Linked DNA regions of Homo sapiens: region 2 is linked to region 1. Evidence: fine-mapped expression QTL. Tissue or cell type: subcutaneous fat. Region 1 holds a variant in brackets; the other region holds the start of a gene. All regions are shown on one strand. Distances are from middle to middle.

Region 1 (8,108 bases):
AAACAGTGTCACGGTGGGTATAGTATAAGGTGTCACCATATCACATGGAGTCCTGCTGAACTGAGTCAGATGCTAGAAATAACACTGGGAACCCTACAGTTAACATTACAATATACAACCGTGAACCTCTCTAACAAAACTCACTAGAAAAAAACACATTTTATTAATATTTGTGACACTCCTAGGATCTTAAATGCCATTCTCTTTTCGATGAGGAAACTAAGGCAAGTGGAAATTAACAATTTTAGCCTGATAAAAGAAGAAAATTCCACAGTGAAACCATGCAGCCAGGCTTTGTAAATGAGCCTTGAGAAATGCAAGTTTTACATGATTGTACCCAGCTTTTGCAGAATCTGCCCTCTGATCTGTATACAGACCGACTGCACCAGGACCTTGTCACTTTCATTTCTGTACAGCCAGGTACCTAAAAGAAAAGATGAAAATTCCCTTGAATTATCAGAGATATAGCCTTGCAAATTAAAACTATTTTCACAGAAGTCTTCATGAGCACATGTGACATCATTTTGAGAAACAATCTCGTCTCTACATTTAGAATCAGGTCCAAACTTCTTGCTGTAGTCTAAGGCTCTGCAGGAACTGACTCCTGTCTGGTCTCCAGTTCCCCTACTTACTCTCTGTCCACTCTACTTTATTTTGCCTCCTTGTTATAGGGCTGGCCTCTTGCTTCATGGCAGCTGCACTTACCACTAGCCCTGCTTGGGATTCTCTTTCCTCTGGCTTCTTAAGAAACCAGATCCTTCTCCTTCAGGTCTCAGCCTCAGTGCTTTTCCTCAAAGGCCTCCACAGAGTAGTATTTCTACACTGTTACCCCCACTGTCTTATGGTTGCTTTGCGGAGCGTGGGGTGGATCCCATCTGAGGAAAATTTGTTTGGATGTCAAAACTGATGACTGCACACATGTACCAAGAGGGTATGAGAAGATTTATTGCTCACATAATGAGACTTTCTAGGGTAAGTAAGGCTAGCACCTAAGCTGCTCCTTTGATTCAGGCAGGGAGTGGTGAGCGGCTTTGCTTTTCACTGTGATTGGGGTGTGGGGCCGGGTAAAGGTTCCTGTAAGCTGGGTTTGGGTGTGTGGATGAAAGGGCTTTTTGTTGTTTGTTTGTTTGTTTTAATCGGACTGTCCAGTGTGAGGCAAAAGTAAAAAAGGCTGTGGCCTGAAAACTGTCAGTGGTCGGTCAAACATCAAAAATAGAGGCAGACTCTTTACTACCCCCTCACCATTCTCTGTCACATCAGATAATATTTATTTTCTTCCTAGCTTTGAATCCTTGTGTGCGTGCGTGTGTGTGTGCACACACACATGATGACAAGAGTGTATACTGTAGTTTAGTGATGGTGGCCACAAGTGAGGGGTGTGTGGTTAATATTTGGATTCCAAACTGTCTCCCCACTAGAAATGTCCACAAGTTTCAGGCAGTTTGAGACCTCACATCCAAGCATGCTGAGTTTAAAAGTCCAATGGAAACTGTGCTCAACTTATTGGTAAACTTGCTAACTTAAATGCCCAGAAATTCAGACAAGATATCTGAAGCCTTAAGTTATTTGTTACCTAACTATTAGGTCTTGCCTCCTTTCATGGATAATTAAATATTGAAAGAAAATCCATTTTGAAACAAGTTTTTATTAAAGTTCTTATGTACCAAAAATCAAATCCATTTTCTGAACCATTTAAATTGATAAAGCCGAAGCAGACTCTTCTGAACTTAGAGGCTTTTATTTCCAATCACAATTTTGTTTAAAAGCTGCTGTTGAACCTTTCTAAGGCCCACTGAGTTATCTGCCTTGACAGTGATTGTTCATTAGATAGCATACTCTGTAAGGAAGCAGGCCAATAGTAGGTTCCTTGTCTTTGTTGTTTTTTTTTTTAACTTAGAGAAAACAGAGACACAGAGATGTAAGCTGCTTGATCAAAGCTTCTTCATTCATCAGTGGCAGAGCCAGCCCCAGATAGCTCTGGAAACATCTAAGGTATAGTAACTATTAAGTCACTAAGTTGTTATTAAATGAGTGCTCTGTTCGGGGCTGAGGTAAAAGTCATTGTGAAGATATGAAAGTACTCACCCGTTGCTCCATTGTTGCTTATTAGACTGCTCAGAATATACTCTGCTTTTAAAAGTTTTCCTGAAAAGCAGCAACCAAATGCCACACAATTAGCTTTGAACATGCACTTAACAATTACAAGTTGTTCATGTTCTAAGACTGATATATTGCAGCAGGAACTGTAACCTCCTTTGGAAGCATTCCATTTTATAATTTAAAATCAACAATGACATCATCTATAAAACTGAAAAGAAAGATGAAGTTTTCCTAAGTTGGTAAGGTGGGAAGTTGGACAGTATCTGAAATGAAAATTAGATTCATATGTATGTGATAATTCATTCACATAGAGCAGGGTTTGAGGAGTAGAGGCAAACTTTTCTAACAGGCTGTGCCGCCTCCCTGTGAAAACTATACTTCAGGAAGTGGAATAGAGTTGCCCGTGGACAGGAACTAGTTATGGAATTATCTGGCAGGAATTTGGGGGTGGGGAGTGAGGAGATTCTTTCTCAAGTTTTTACTTATTTTTGTTACTACCACATAGGAAGGGCCTATTCTATGGACACCTGTTGGAAACACAATTATTTATCCTTTTAACCAAACATTCCTTTCTCTAGGTTCCTCTAAGCCCTACATGATCTGGCTTTCATGACTTCTTTGACCTCACCTCTAACTACTTATTCCTTCCTTCTTGGCCCTCTACTTCAGTCACAGTGGCCTCCTTATCATCCCTTGGGTAGACCAGGCTCATTACCACATCAGAGTTTTTGTATTTACAATTATTTCAGTGTGTAACGCTTTCATCCCAAATATCTGCAAGGCTTCCTCTCTTCTTCTTCAGGTCTTTGCTCAAATGTCACTGTCTCTGAAGGCCTCCCCTGACCATCTTATTTTAAATTACATACGTAGACATACACTCTGGCTGTGGTAGGTTGTATTTCCAAAAAAGACCACACCAGTATATTCCATTCTTCACGCTC[G/A]TTTGCAATGATGACCTGGCCATTTTTCCATCAAAAAGTGGAATCTAGAGTTTATTTCCCTTCACCTTGAACACAACTGGCCCTGTGACCTGTTTTGACAAATGGAATGTGGCAGAAGTCTGGGCGTTAAGGGATCTTTAAATTCTGCCTTCCCTTCTTGGAACTTAGCCCAATGCTCTGAGGAAGCTGAGGCCGCCACATGGAGAGGCCCATGCAGAGGACAGCTGAGGCCCTCCCCCAAGGCCTCTGCTTGGCTCTTAGCTGGCAGCCAGTACCAAATGCCTACTGTGTGGATGAAACCATTCCAGACCTTCTAGCTATCCCAGCTTCCAGCTGACAGTACTTATAATAATCACCCAAACTACAAATTATGAGACTGAATGAATTATTACTGTTTTAAGCCACTATGTCATGGAGTGGCTTTTAACATAGCAATGGAAAAATCATGCACTTAAAAGTGGAGTACTACTATAACAAAAACTTTGGAGACTTGAAGGGTGTTGCAGAGACAAAAGGCAGTGAAGAAATTGTTCCTGGAAGTTTGAGAAAGGGAACAGACATTATACGGTGTTGTAAAGTTTGGCAACATGGTCTCCAGGAGTAATGTGGAATGTAGCAAAATGTAACCAGTGGACTCGGTGTCTAGCTAGGGAGATACCCAGGAAGGATATTGAAAGTGCCAAAATGTGTATCTTTTAGTTACCCAAGATAAAGTACAGGAAGAAAGCAATAACCTAAAGAAGAAACTACAGTAGTCCCCTCTGTCCCCAGTTTCCCTTTCTGCAGTTTCAGTTACCAGCAGTCAACCACAGTCCAAAAATATTAAATGGAAAATTCCAGGAATAAACAATTCATAAGTTTTAAATTGCGTGCCGTTCTGAGTAGCGTGATGAAATCTCATCCTGCCTGGGACATGAACCATTCCTTTGTCCAGCGGATCCATGCTATCTACGATGATCACCCATTAGTCACTTAGCAGACCTCTCCATGATCAGATCAACTGTCTGTCAGGTAATGCAGTGCTTGTGTTCAAGTCACCCGTATTTTACTTAACAATGGCCGCAAAGGACAGGAGTAGTGATGCTGGCAATTTGGATGTGCCAAAGAGAAGCTGTAAAGTGCTTCCTTTAAGTGAGAAGGTGAAAATTCTCAACTTAATAAAGAAGGAAAAAATTCATATGCCAAAGTTGCTAAGGTCTATGGTAAGGATGCATCCTCTATCCAAAAATGGTGAAGAAGGAAAAAGAGATTTGTGCTAGTTTTGCTGTCACATCTCCAACTGTGAAAGTATGGCTACCGTGCGTGATAGATGCTTAGTTAAGATGGAAAAGGCATTAAATCGGTGGGTAGAAGACATAAACAGAAATGTGTCTTGATTAATGGCAATCAGGCTTGGGCATCTACTGGGGTCTTGGAACGTATCCCCCATGAATAAGGGGGGACTACTGTATTCCATTTTTAAGCAAGATTTAGGGAAAATAAAGACGGCCCAGAATAGTTTTTCCAGACAGCAAGACATTCTGAAGATAAATTTAAAATATTAAAACCTGGGGCAAAGGTCAAATTCAGGGCACTGGCAGTAAAATGTGACCTTAGGGTCAAGATCAAACCAAGGGCGTGGCTGTAAAACACTTTGTTAAGACCTCAGACCCTCTGACCAAGCGAAAGAGCTTCTAAGAATCTTAAGGGTGCTGTCCTGTATCCCTTTGGTTTGTAGCCCAAAGTAGCATTCAAAGATAAATGTAGGCATTTTTTTTCTAATTTAGTATGTTAAAAAGCTAGAAAGTATTTAAAGGAATTATATCAGCTTGATTTAAGAAGGGCAGAGATAGTTCAAAATGAAAAGAGACATCTGGGAGTCAAACTTTCTATAGGCATGGAGTACGCTGAGATGTTTTCATAAAAAATATTTTATGGGCCGGGCACGGTGGCTCATGCCTGTAATCCCAGCATTTGGGAGACTGAGGTGGGTGGATCACCTGAGGTCAGGAGTTCGAGACCAGCCTGACCAATATGGTGAAACCCCGTCTCTACTAAAAATACAAAAAGTAGCCAGGCATGGTGGCGTGCACCTGTAGTCTCAGCTACTCGGGAGGCTGAGACAGGAGAATTGCTTGAACCCAGGAGTTGTAGGTTGCAGTGAGCTGAGATCACACCATTGCACTCCAGCCTGCGTGACAGAGTCTCTCTCTCTCTCTCTCTCTCTTTCTCTCTATGTATGTATGAGTATATACATGCATTTTATAGACAAGGAAGGATGATTCAGAGGACAAATCCAAAAGCTGAGGCGAACCATTCTCAAAGAGAAAAAGTGAGCCCTAATCAAGAAATAATTCTTGTCCTCACATCAGGAAGACTTGGGATATATGCCTGGCTAGATTTTAGATTAATATGAACCGTGACTGCTGAGTGACTCTCATTTCCCCCGCTTTTGCACAGAAGCGCCTATTGAAATTATCTTTTCCTATATCCCCATTGCATGCCAGTTGTGTTGGAAGGTAGGTAACTTGTCTTTTAGTTCACAAGTCTCTGTGTCCCCAGAAGAAGTACCTGAGAAGACTTGTTTGTCCCTAAACCTACTTCAGAGGATAAGATCTTAAGCTTTGAACCTGAACCCTTAATGGTACGAGGCTCTGAGGGAGGAATGAGTGTATTTTGCACATGAGAGGGATGTGTATTGTTGTAGCCAGAACATGAACTGTGATTAAATTGTTTTAGGCCACTAACTTTGGGGAGTGGCTTGTTGCAAAGCAAATGATCACCAAAACACTGCCACTGTTTCTCACCTCTGCTTTATTTTTCTTTGTCATTTATTGCCATAAGACACATTGTATATTTTAATTATTTCCTCATTGCCTGGGTCTCCCCATTAGAGTGTGAACTCTGAGACAGCAGGAGGTTTTGCCTGTTTTGTTCACTGCCCTGTCCCATGTACCTCTAACAATGCTTGGAACAGGGCAAATATTCAGTAGCTATTTGTCATTCATCCAAATACATGTTTGAATTGTGCCAGGGACTGTGCTAAGAGCTGGAGATGGAATGATGAACAAGACAGAGCCCCTGTCTTCAAGGTAATAATAGTAATAATAATAACAATAAGAGCTACCGTTTATTACGTGTTTACTATGTGACGGACATTGTTCTAAATTATATCTAAGCACTCTATTGTCTTCATTTCACAAATAAAGAAATGGGCCTTACAGAGGATAAGTATCATTACCAAAAGATATGAACCAAGGCAGCCTGCCATGAAAGTCCAAACTCACCAGTGCTAAACTGCTTTCCAGAGATACCACTATCTCAGATTAGTTGTCCAACATGATATTTTTGTAGGGGACCATTTTCAGCCATGCAGGATACAATTTTCTTTCCTCACATTCTCATCAGAGGATGGAACATATAGCATGAAATAATATCTGCAGTTTTTAGAGTTTCTCATCTTGTCTCCTTCCCTTGTCAATTTTTAAAGTTACTGTCCTCCCTCCCTTTCTCTCTACCTCTTTCCTTTCATCCTTCCTTTCCTCCTTCTTTCCCTTCTGCCTTTCTTCCTCTTTTCTTCCCTCCCTCCCTTCTAATTTCCTCTCTGTTTTAAACCTCATTGCTGTGCTATTTTTAATTTTTTTATAGTTCTATCTTCTCCCCCAACTTGAACCACTTGATAATGAACCATATCTTGATCATCTTTATAACTATCCTAAAGGCCTAATGCAATTGTTGGCACATAGCAGGCTTTCCACATATATTTGTCCAAAAAAAGAAAAACAGAGAAACAGAGAATAAAAGAAAATTAGTATCGAAATCATGGCTTACAGTCGAATTAAATTTATTCATACCAATATATTTAAAATGACAGATATCAAATGAAATACCTACACGAATAAATTTTATCAAAGCAATCTCTATTCTTAAAAGATATATTTCTAATTAGGTTTTGTTGCTAACTAAGAATGGGCATTTAAAAAATATTGACTTTGTATTCACCAACCTTGCTGAATTTCTTAATTCTAACAATCTGTGGATTTCTTGGAGTATTCTATGTGTTCAGCCATATTGTCTACAAATCATACTGTTTTTGTTTATTCATTTCTAGCCTTTATACCTTTTATTTCCTTTCATTTTCTTATTGCCTTGAGAGGACTTCCAGGGAAGTATCAAATAGAAGCAGTAATGAGGTACTTTTTTTCTTGACATGACTTAAAAAGGAATTCTTATAATTTTTCATCATTGGTTTTGCTGGAGGCTTTCAGTTACTTCCTTTTATCAGTTTAAGAAAGTTCCCTCCTATGCAGGGAGTAACTTTTTCAGCTCCAACTTATCATCTTTCAGTTCCAATCCACCCTTCAATACCTGCTTTGTGATCATGGGGATGGATCTGGTAAACATTTCTCCTTTGTCAGCTGGCAAGATGGTAAGCCTTGTCATCGTGGGGTGTGGAAGGACGCTGCATGGGAAGGGTGCTTCTCATCCTGACTTGGTGTGCTCCTCTGGCCAGGCCACTGCGGGTACCACTTCCTAAATGCCTGACTCCTACAACACAGGCTTTCATAGCTTTCCCTGTGCCTGACTCCTGCAACATAGGTGACTTCTGTAGCATCTGTCTCCTCATTGTGCAGAGGGTCAGCCGAACCCGGCAGTCAGTCCTCTCAGCTGACTTTACAGTGGAGTGCTGTCAGTTAGGCTCCTCTGGTGACCAGTTTCCCCTGGCACTCTGTAAAGGCAGCTTTGTGGTGAGTTCTAAGACACAGCGCCTCCCCGTGGATGGCTTCCCCCAACATTCAGAAGGTGGGTTTCCAGCGAGTTTGGCCAGCATGGAACCTTGGTGACTTCTCTGCCACGCGGCGAGCCATGTCTGTGCCTTCTCCAAAAAGGTCTTGATCTCAGCCGTGGTGTGCGTAGGTATGAGGGCCAGGAGCTCTTTTTTAGGTGTTCTATCTGAGTCCAGGGAATAGTGGCTGTACCTTAAAAATGCTATCCTGCACGCTTTAGAGTTCTTCTTTAGAGTTCTCTTTACTTTTCACTAGCCAAGCCCTCATTACTCTAATCCCCTGAAATAGTAATTCTTTGTAT
Region 2 (8,108 bases), 120 kb after region 1:
AAATTTCTCGGTAATGATATAGTTATCTTGGAAAATGATGACGGGCTGACCAGCAGTGTCCAAACTTTAATTAGAGCTGAAGTTACTGTGAAGAAATGCCAACTAAAAGGACACATGATGAGGTTCTAAATTTTTTTTTTGTAGAAAAAAAGGTAATTATGAATGGACAAGGCTTTTGCTGGCAATTCTGCAGATATTTTGGGTGCATATTATGCACTGATGGAGAATGCACCACAGTAACCAGATGTGCTGGGGTTAAGGTCAAAGCAGTGCTGGTGAGCCAATGACACAGTGCATTTTGAGGTGCAGTAGGAGTATATACAAAGACATGACAAAATTGAATATAAGTACAATATGTGCAGATATAAATTACTAAATCCAAAATATGGAAATCCATAAGAACAAGAAATGAGTTAAGAGGTTATTTGCACACAGGTCAGGCCAAATTTCCATTCCCCCTTCCCTGCCTTTTTTTTTTTTATCTTTAAGCCAAAAGAATTATTAGACTGAAGTAAAAGCTACAGTTGACAGAGAAGCAATCAACACAAGAAAAATGAACCAATAGTAAGTGTTTCAACTGGTATTTCCTTCTCTGTTCACTGACTCCGCTGCACCTGTTTGTTCCTAGCACTGAGACTCCGTCCTCTCTTCTTTCACATAGCTGGTTATTTGTATGCCAAATAAAAAGAAGGAAAAACTTTTATCTTCCAAAGCTGCATAGTTTTATTTACTATATATTATTAGCAATATAGTTCTATTTAATAAACTATATTTGTTTTCTCAAAAAAGATATAAGTATATTATATAATAATTTAAAAATTTTTTGTAAGAATATCATGTTATGTAGAAAGAAATAGAAGGAAGGGAAAGAATCTATCACTGTAAGACAACAATCACTTTTAGAATATTTCTGAATTTATATCTATACCATTTTATGTAAATACTTGCATGCATACAAGTTATTCAATCCTGAGTCTGTTTTTCACTTAGTATTTTCTGTGCTGGTACTATTTTTTATCCTATCATGTTTTATGGGTACAGTATCTTTTGCTTAACCTCCCCCTTTTATGAGAATGCTTGCAATTATTTGTTATTACGACTTTATGATGAACATGTTTGCGAATTTTTCCCTTGTCTAGAATTATTTCCCCCTTAGGATGGATTCCCAGAAATGAAATTATTGCATATAGCCATTGGCACATACTATGACCCATTAGTAGCCCTTGATCTAGATAATGTTTAAAGTCCCCCCTGGCCCCTGAGTTCAGAAGTTCAGTGAAACAAGCAGAATGAACCTGTAGTATTCAAGCTGAGACATTTCACCCTTTCTATCACTCTTATTTGAAAAAGTATTGGCTATCTTCTGCATCCCTTCAATTATATGATAATTTACGAGGAAATATAATAGTTTATTAGGCTACAGGTGTGATAAACGTTTGATAAAATATTTCTCTGTCAAATACTTTGTACATCTATACTTAGGAAATTGAACAGATTGCATTGTCAACTGAGCTCTGTAACCAAGGCCCAGTAAAATTCAAAGATACTGCACTGGCTAAGAAAATATCCACTTCTCAAATGCATTAGTGTAGCATGTCTGAAACTTTAGCCATTTGCATGCCATCTTCATAATTTTTGCCAAATCTGCAGATTACCTGTAATATTATTTATTTAATCATTTCCTTAAAATCAATAGTAAATTAGCTCAACTTCTTACTTAACACTTTCCTGAACAACAGTATTCATGAAATTCTAGGTTTTATAAGCAAATTATGTTAATTTATATTAAGCTAGCAAATAACTCAAAATTTTGAAGTTTAGACATGTACTGCCTAAAATCAGTAGCATGTATACCATACTTAGGAAAAGTTGTATTTGTATGTATCTGATATTTAAGTTATAATCATCTCTTCTTTTCTTCAGACATAGAAGAATGATAGCACCAGATAATATTCTTTCTTTTAAGTTTGTCTATCCCACAGTTCTCTATAAATAAAGCATATTACAACATTCTGCAAAAACAGTTGTCACCATCAATAACAAGAAACAAAGACTCCCCCATATAGAGAGGCAACAAATACAATACAAAATACAAAAAAAACAAAAATATGGAATATATTTTCACCAAAAGTTTAAATGCTCATTCCTTTAAGAGTTCTTCAATCCATAGATATTCAAAATTTCAAGAAAGAAAATCATTTACAATGAACAGCTTATGCCAAAAAGCCATCATTCTCTGCAATAGATTAGAGAATAATAAAAGCAATTCATGCCTTGTGTTCATGGGAAAGGGATCAGTAAAATTGTTTGGAATAGAAGGAGCCATGGAATTTCAGAAATATCTTGAAATGCACAAACTTATTCTTAAGGAAAACTTCAGGCTCTAAATCCAAACCTAGATCACATGGCACTTGCTGGGAGGTATTGTTACAGCTTAACACATCAGCAAAGCTCATCACAGTATTATTATATATGATAATGCCTAATATCCATCATAATTTACACATGCCTTTTCTTTACAGTTTAAAATAGATTTTGAAAAGTTTAAAGTAATTATTGGCTTCCTACTCATGCAGATAGAGATGCTATACAATTTTGGTGTCTTCTTGGCGGAAGAAATTTGAGAGATTCATCTCAGATTTAAAAGATCTTTGATATGGGGAATAAGTTATTTCTAAAATAAGTTTAAGTATTTTGTTTCTCTTGAGGCTTGAGGTTGATGGGGTGGGAAGGAGGTGGGAAGAGAGAAGTAAATTGTTTCGGTCAGCAGACAAGGACTGGACTTGACATTGGTTCTAGAGACTAGAGTGTATCCCAAGTGCATAAATTATACCCCAAATTAAATGGATATTGTTTCTTATAAGAGAATTAGTGGCACAAAGTAAAAAGAAAGTAAAAGGGAGAGAGAGAGAGACAGAGAGAGAGAGAAATATATATCGCAAGCAGAGATGCTATTATATTGTGGCATAAAGTCCTCTCCTTCCTGATCCTGCCTGTTTGTACCCTCACCCATCCTCAAATCCCAAACCATCTTAAAGGTTTTAATTTGTGGCTTTTCAAAGTACTCTAAAGTACTAATTTCAAACACTAGAATTTTTTAATTAAAGGATTTTTCTAAATAGACATGCAAAGGAATTTAATTTTTCTGGATGCTTTGTCTCTAAACAATGCTTCCACGCACTCAGAATTCCCGTCAATTCACCCATATGAGACGAGTAAGTCTCGTGCCTTATCTACCTGTTTCCTAGCAAAATTACTGATGCTGTCATAAAAGTGGTAGTTTCTATTATTACCTATGTATTCCAGGCAAAAGTCATAGAGTTTTTTTTTAAACAAATAATCCTAACAATCCTTTAATTAAACATCTCAGTTAAGTGACAAGACCAGAAGCTCAGTGACTTAAGAAACTTGTTATTAAAACCTTATGAAAAACTGGTTTGCCTTCTCCCCTTCATAATGACTACAGTTTACCATTGTAGGTAACTTTTCCCTTCTCTCCCTCCCCTTCCCCACTCCACCCCCTTCACCCCACCAACTCATCCTCCCCTTTCTGGAAAGTTTCTATTATAGAAGTGCAAAGGTTCTTAGAGCTCTAAAGTTATTTAAATATAAACAAGATCAGCAGATGGAAACTGAGTCAACACTTAAGACAAATACTTCCTCATATATTATGCCATCTACTGCGTTTTGTCATTTAAAGGATGATACTCACTTTTATCTTAAAGAGGAAAAGTACTTTAAGACCAGCAAATCTAACTCTGAGCAGAGTTAATTCTGGTACAGCCTCTCTGAAACACACTGTTTCTCATAAACGGCTTCAGTTTCAGGAAGTAGGAATTAAAAAAAAAAAAACAACCAATCCTGTGACTGTCTCAGAATATGGTTGTGTAATTCAATTCCGGGACTTTCAGCAATCTTGCACCATAAGACACACCCCTTTAGGAATTGCTTCGGTGAAAGGTATTCTGGGAGCTGTATTACTACAGAAAAGTTCCTTCTCCTAATGAAAGTGCAAGAAAAACTTATTATTTAGACTAAGAATGGAGAGTCCTCTTAGAGCCAAGAAGAGAGAATGTCAGTAAGAAACAATGAATATGACATTGTTGAAATCTGTTAGCAAAAGACAGATGCACATTAAGGCTTCATTCTGTGCTCTGTCTTAGAAGTGAGCTTGTTATCACAGAGACACATATATTGCTGAACTGGAAAATAAAGTTAGGACTTTTTGGATAGAATATCTGATTAGGCTGACTAGTTTGACAGTGAAAAGTGTCTTATTGAGTTACACAGTGGACATTGTCCTTCCATGGAACAACTGAAATCTGCAACTCGAAATTTTGACAAAAAAATCAAAAGTACCTAAGATTTCTAAATGTCAAAATATATTTTATTGGAAAAGTTATTGACATAAACAATATTTTAATTTTCTCAATCCTTTTTGAGCCTGCTGGGTTAAAGAAGTTTCCTCTAGAGTGAAGGAATAATAGGTTTTATTAATAGTCATTTGATACATTTTGGTAAAGCCTTTGGTATACTTCCTAGAAACTGAGAGAGTGAAGGACTCCAAAAGCTGGGTCATAAATGCTTTGGCAAGTCAATTGTTTACAACAAAATAGGAGGAAATAGTTGAATAGTCAGTTGCTCGATCACTTAAAACACATTTTTTTTGTGTGATAGATCGCTATGTAATGTTTAATATATGACCTTAGAAGTTTAAATAACCAAATGGCATTGCTATAACAAAATTCTATCTCTATTTATTTATGTAAACACAGTTCCTCTCCTCTTCCATGTGTATATTTTTGTGGAATGTTGTTTTATTCCAACTATAAGTAACATTCAGCTGTGAATTAATTTTTTAAAACTCCAGAAATCTTATGGAGAAGTGACACTTGAATAAATTTTATCACTTAATATTCATCAAAACGTACCATTTTATTTTTGTCTTCTTCATCAATTATGAATCAATACTTGTACAATTCAATCTTTAAGAAAGTTTAATACTTAGAGTCTATGGTCACAGAAAACAGAAATGTTTAATTTCTTTTTTCTTTTCTATTTTTTTTTTTTTTTTTGAGATGGAGTTTCGCTCTTGTTGCCCAGGCTGGGGTGCAGTGGCACAATCTCGGCTCGCTGCAGCCTCTGCCTCCTGGGTTCAAACGATTCTCCTGCCTCAGCCTTCCGAGTAGCTGGGATTACAGGTGCCTGCCAGCACGCCCAGCTAATTTTTTGTATTTTTAGTAGAGGTGGGGCTTCACCATGTTGGCCAGGCTGGTCTCGAACTCCTGACCTCAGGTCTGTCTGCCTCGGCCTCCCAAAGCACTGGGATTACAGGTGTGAGCCACCACACCCAGCCAGAAAGGTTTAATTTCAATATATACTTTTTTTGAGAGACATGTTGCCCAGGCTGGAGTGCAGTGGCATGATCTCTGTTCACTGCAACCTCTGCCTCCTGGGTTCAAGCGATTCTCCTGCCTCAGCTTCCCAAGTAACTGGGACTACAGGCACCCGCCACCACGCCCAGCTAATTTTTGTATTTTAGTAGAGACAGGGTTTCACCATATCGGCCAGGCTGGTCTCGAACTCCTGACCTCTGGTGATCTGCCTGCCTTCGCTTCCCAAAGTGCTGGGATTACAGGCTTGAGCCACTGCACCCGGCCTACATATTTTTACTGTAAAGAAATATGACAAAAACTTTCAAGTATATAAACTGTTTTATACTAGGATAAACTTCTATGGATGAAGTGAAATGAAACAGAAGGTTACGGAAATACAGGAATGATATAAAATTTCCAATTGTTAAAAAAGATTTGTACATGTGTCTTTATTTTTAAATTTTTTAAATTTTAAACTTTTTTGAGATAGGGCTGTCACCTGGGCTGGAATGCAGTGGCACAATCACAGCTCACTGCAGCCTTGACCTCCTGGTCTCAAGTGATCCTCCTGCTTCAGCCTCCCAGGTAGCTGGGACCACAGGTGTACACCATCACACCTGGCTAATTTTTGTTTTTGTTTTTTTGTTTGTTTGTTTTTTGTAAAGACAGTGTTTCTCCATGTTGTCCAGACTGGTCTCGAACTCCTGGGCTCAAGTGATCTACCCATCTCAGCCTCCCAAAGTGTTGGGACTATGGGAGTGAGCCACTGCGCCCAGCCTGTACATGCGTTTTTAAATGGATGATGGGGAACATCAAATCACTAGGATATAAAATTTGTGTTGGATACATTTAAAAGAGTAATGTATGAGTTATGTTTATTCAACGTCAGATTTAGACCCTTTGTATCTAAAGTTATAATGAAAGATGAATATCGACTTTATGTGAAGGAATTATTGTCTTTGCAAAATTCTATTTGGGGGTAGGGGAGCAAAAATGTTGGAAATACAGTGTTTAGGATGAAGGGCTGTACATTTCAGAGCCTAAAAAAGGGCACTGTACACCTGAGTATGGAGAGAAAGGCAATGGCACTGATAGAAGAGGAGGGATCTCATAGGAGATATTATCTTTCTTACAGTTTGGACAACAGTCAGATTGTCTTCAACAGGGATTCCTGGTAAGATCCTTAGAGTCATGTAAAACACAAAGACAAAATGGCTCATTTATAATCCAGTGGTGAGTTTTAGTAAGATTTCAAAGATGGAAGTTTCATTACACAAATTTCAACTATTTTAAGTGATTGAGATGTACACCTATATAAGGAATACATTATGACACGCAGGAAAACTGGCTGCAGCATCATACTCATTTTGATTTTCTAGGATTTATCATCTTGAATATAAAATATAAAATGCTGATACAAGCTGACATCATTCGTTCATCTCAATAACATGTTTAGGGAATCTTTTGTGTCAAGTGCTACATTGGTGCTACAGATTCAGACTGTGCACACAAGCAATGCACTTAAGGCAATCACAGTGACTGATGGATTAGTAGTGATGTGGCCAGAAATTAGTTGGAAAAAATTGGCAAGAGTTGGCTCATAATAGGAGGTCTTTGTGTTTCATTTTAAGGAGTTTGGATATTTATATTGACAACATAGAAAATTTGGGCCAGGCGTGGTGGCTCACGCCTGTAATCCCAGCACTCTGAGAGGCCGAGGCGGGCGGATCACGAGGTCAGGAGTTCAAGACCAGCCTGGCCAAGATGGTGAAACCTTGTCTCTACTAAAAATACAAAAATTAGCTGGGCGTGGTGGCGGATGCCTGTAGTCACAGCTACTTGGGAGGCTGAGGCAGAGAATTTCTTGAACCCGGGAGGTGGAGGTTGCAGTGAGGCAAGATTGCGCCACTGCACTCCAGCCTGGGCAACAGAGCAAGACTCCATCTCAAGAAAAAAAAAAACAACAGAAAACAGAAAATTTCAAAGAATGTAAAATCATAAAACTGTTTTAGAAAGAATACTTACTGTTGTGGGAAGGTTGGAGTATGGAGCAAGGTTCATGCAAGGGAGGGATCCTGGTGGTGGGTGGATTAGGAGGCAAGACTGGAATTAGGAAAATGAGTTAGAAGAGTACTGCAGTATTGTAGAGAGAAGTGATGACTAGCCTTAATTAATGGCAGTAGCAATGGAATAAAAAGGAAGGGAAAGAAATATTTAGGAAATAGAATCACAGGCCTGGGTGAGAGACACAGAAATATGGGTAAATGACTTAGAGGCAGTCAAAAAACTATAATTGTAGTTAGATATTACCAAAGGGGAATGTACAGGATAGAAAGAAGGCCACAGAGGTGGAAGTTGGTAATACTGGCATTCACGCAGAAAAAGAGAGATCCATAGAGGAGATGGGTAAAGAACGCTTAGAACAGTAGTAAAAAAACCAAAACAAAGTATATCCTAAAAACAGGACTGGCAAGAGACTTTGCAGGGCCTCTTGTTCAAAAATATTAAGCATTTCAGGTTGATGATAGCCGATATAAGCATGGGACTCTGAGTGCAGGGCCCTATGGATTGCACAGGTCACACACTCAGGAAAGCCTGCTTAAAAGCCAAGTAGATGGAAGTGACAGTGTCAATGAAGTGAAATTGGTCAACAAGAACAAATGATGCAGAGAAGTGAAGTAGGACGAGAACAGAAAAGTGTCCTTTGGCTTGGCAAGTAGGTCAAGGATGGAT

Which allele goes with the higher level. Alleles are on the strand shown, and positions count from the first base shown. SD is a standard deviation of normalised expression in the study named.
For the expression in subcutaneous fat of the gene that starts at base 3,813 in region 2, A is the low allele of the variant in region 1 and G is the other (small effect, 0.30 SD a copy in GTEx).

What was found. PIP is the estimated chance that this variant, and not a neighbour inherited with it, causes the effect.
Region 2: it holds the start of ALPK1, and the variant in region 1 is fine-mapped to the expression of ALPK1 in subcutaneous fat (GTEx, PIP above 0.99). The same link has a PIP of 0.9 or more in sun-exposed skin.

Annotation. Positions count from the first base shown.
Region 1 is chr4:112,417,981-112,426,088 of GRCh38, reverse strand. ALPK1 (alpha kinase 1) reads right to left here. Exons shown (of 16, transcript NM_025144.4): 6 at 2,086-2,145; 7 at 338-424. Among named protein-coding and RNA genes, the nearest start is that of NEUROG2-AS1, 93 kb to the left of the region's middle. The variant G/A (reference allele first, on the strand shown) is at 3,042.
Region 2 is chr4:112,293,074-112,301,181 of GRCh38, reverse strand. It overlaps ALPK1 (alpha kinase 1), which reads right to left and starts at 3,813. Exons shown (of 16, transcript NM_025144.4): 1 at 3,713-3,813. RefSeq lists an enhancer at 3,755-4,049.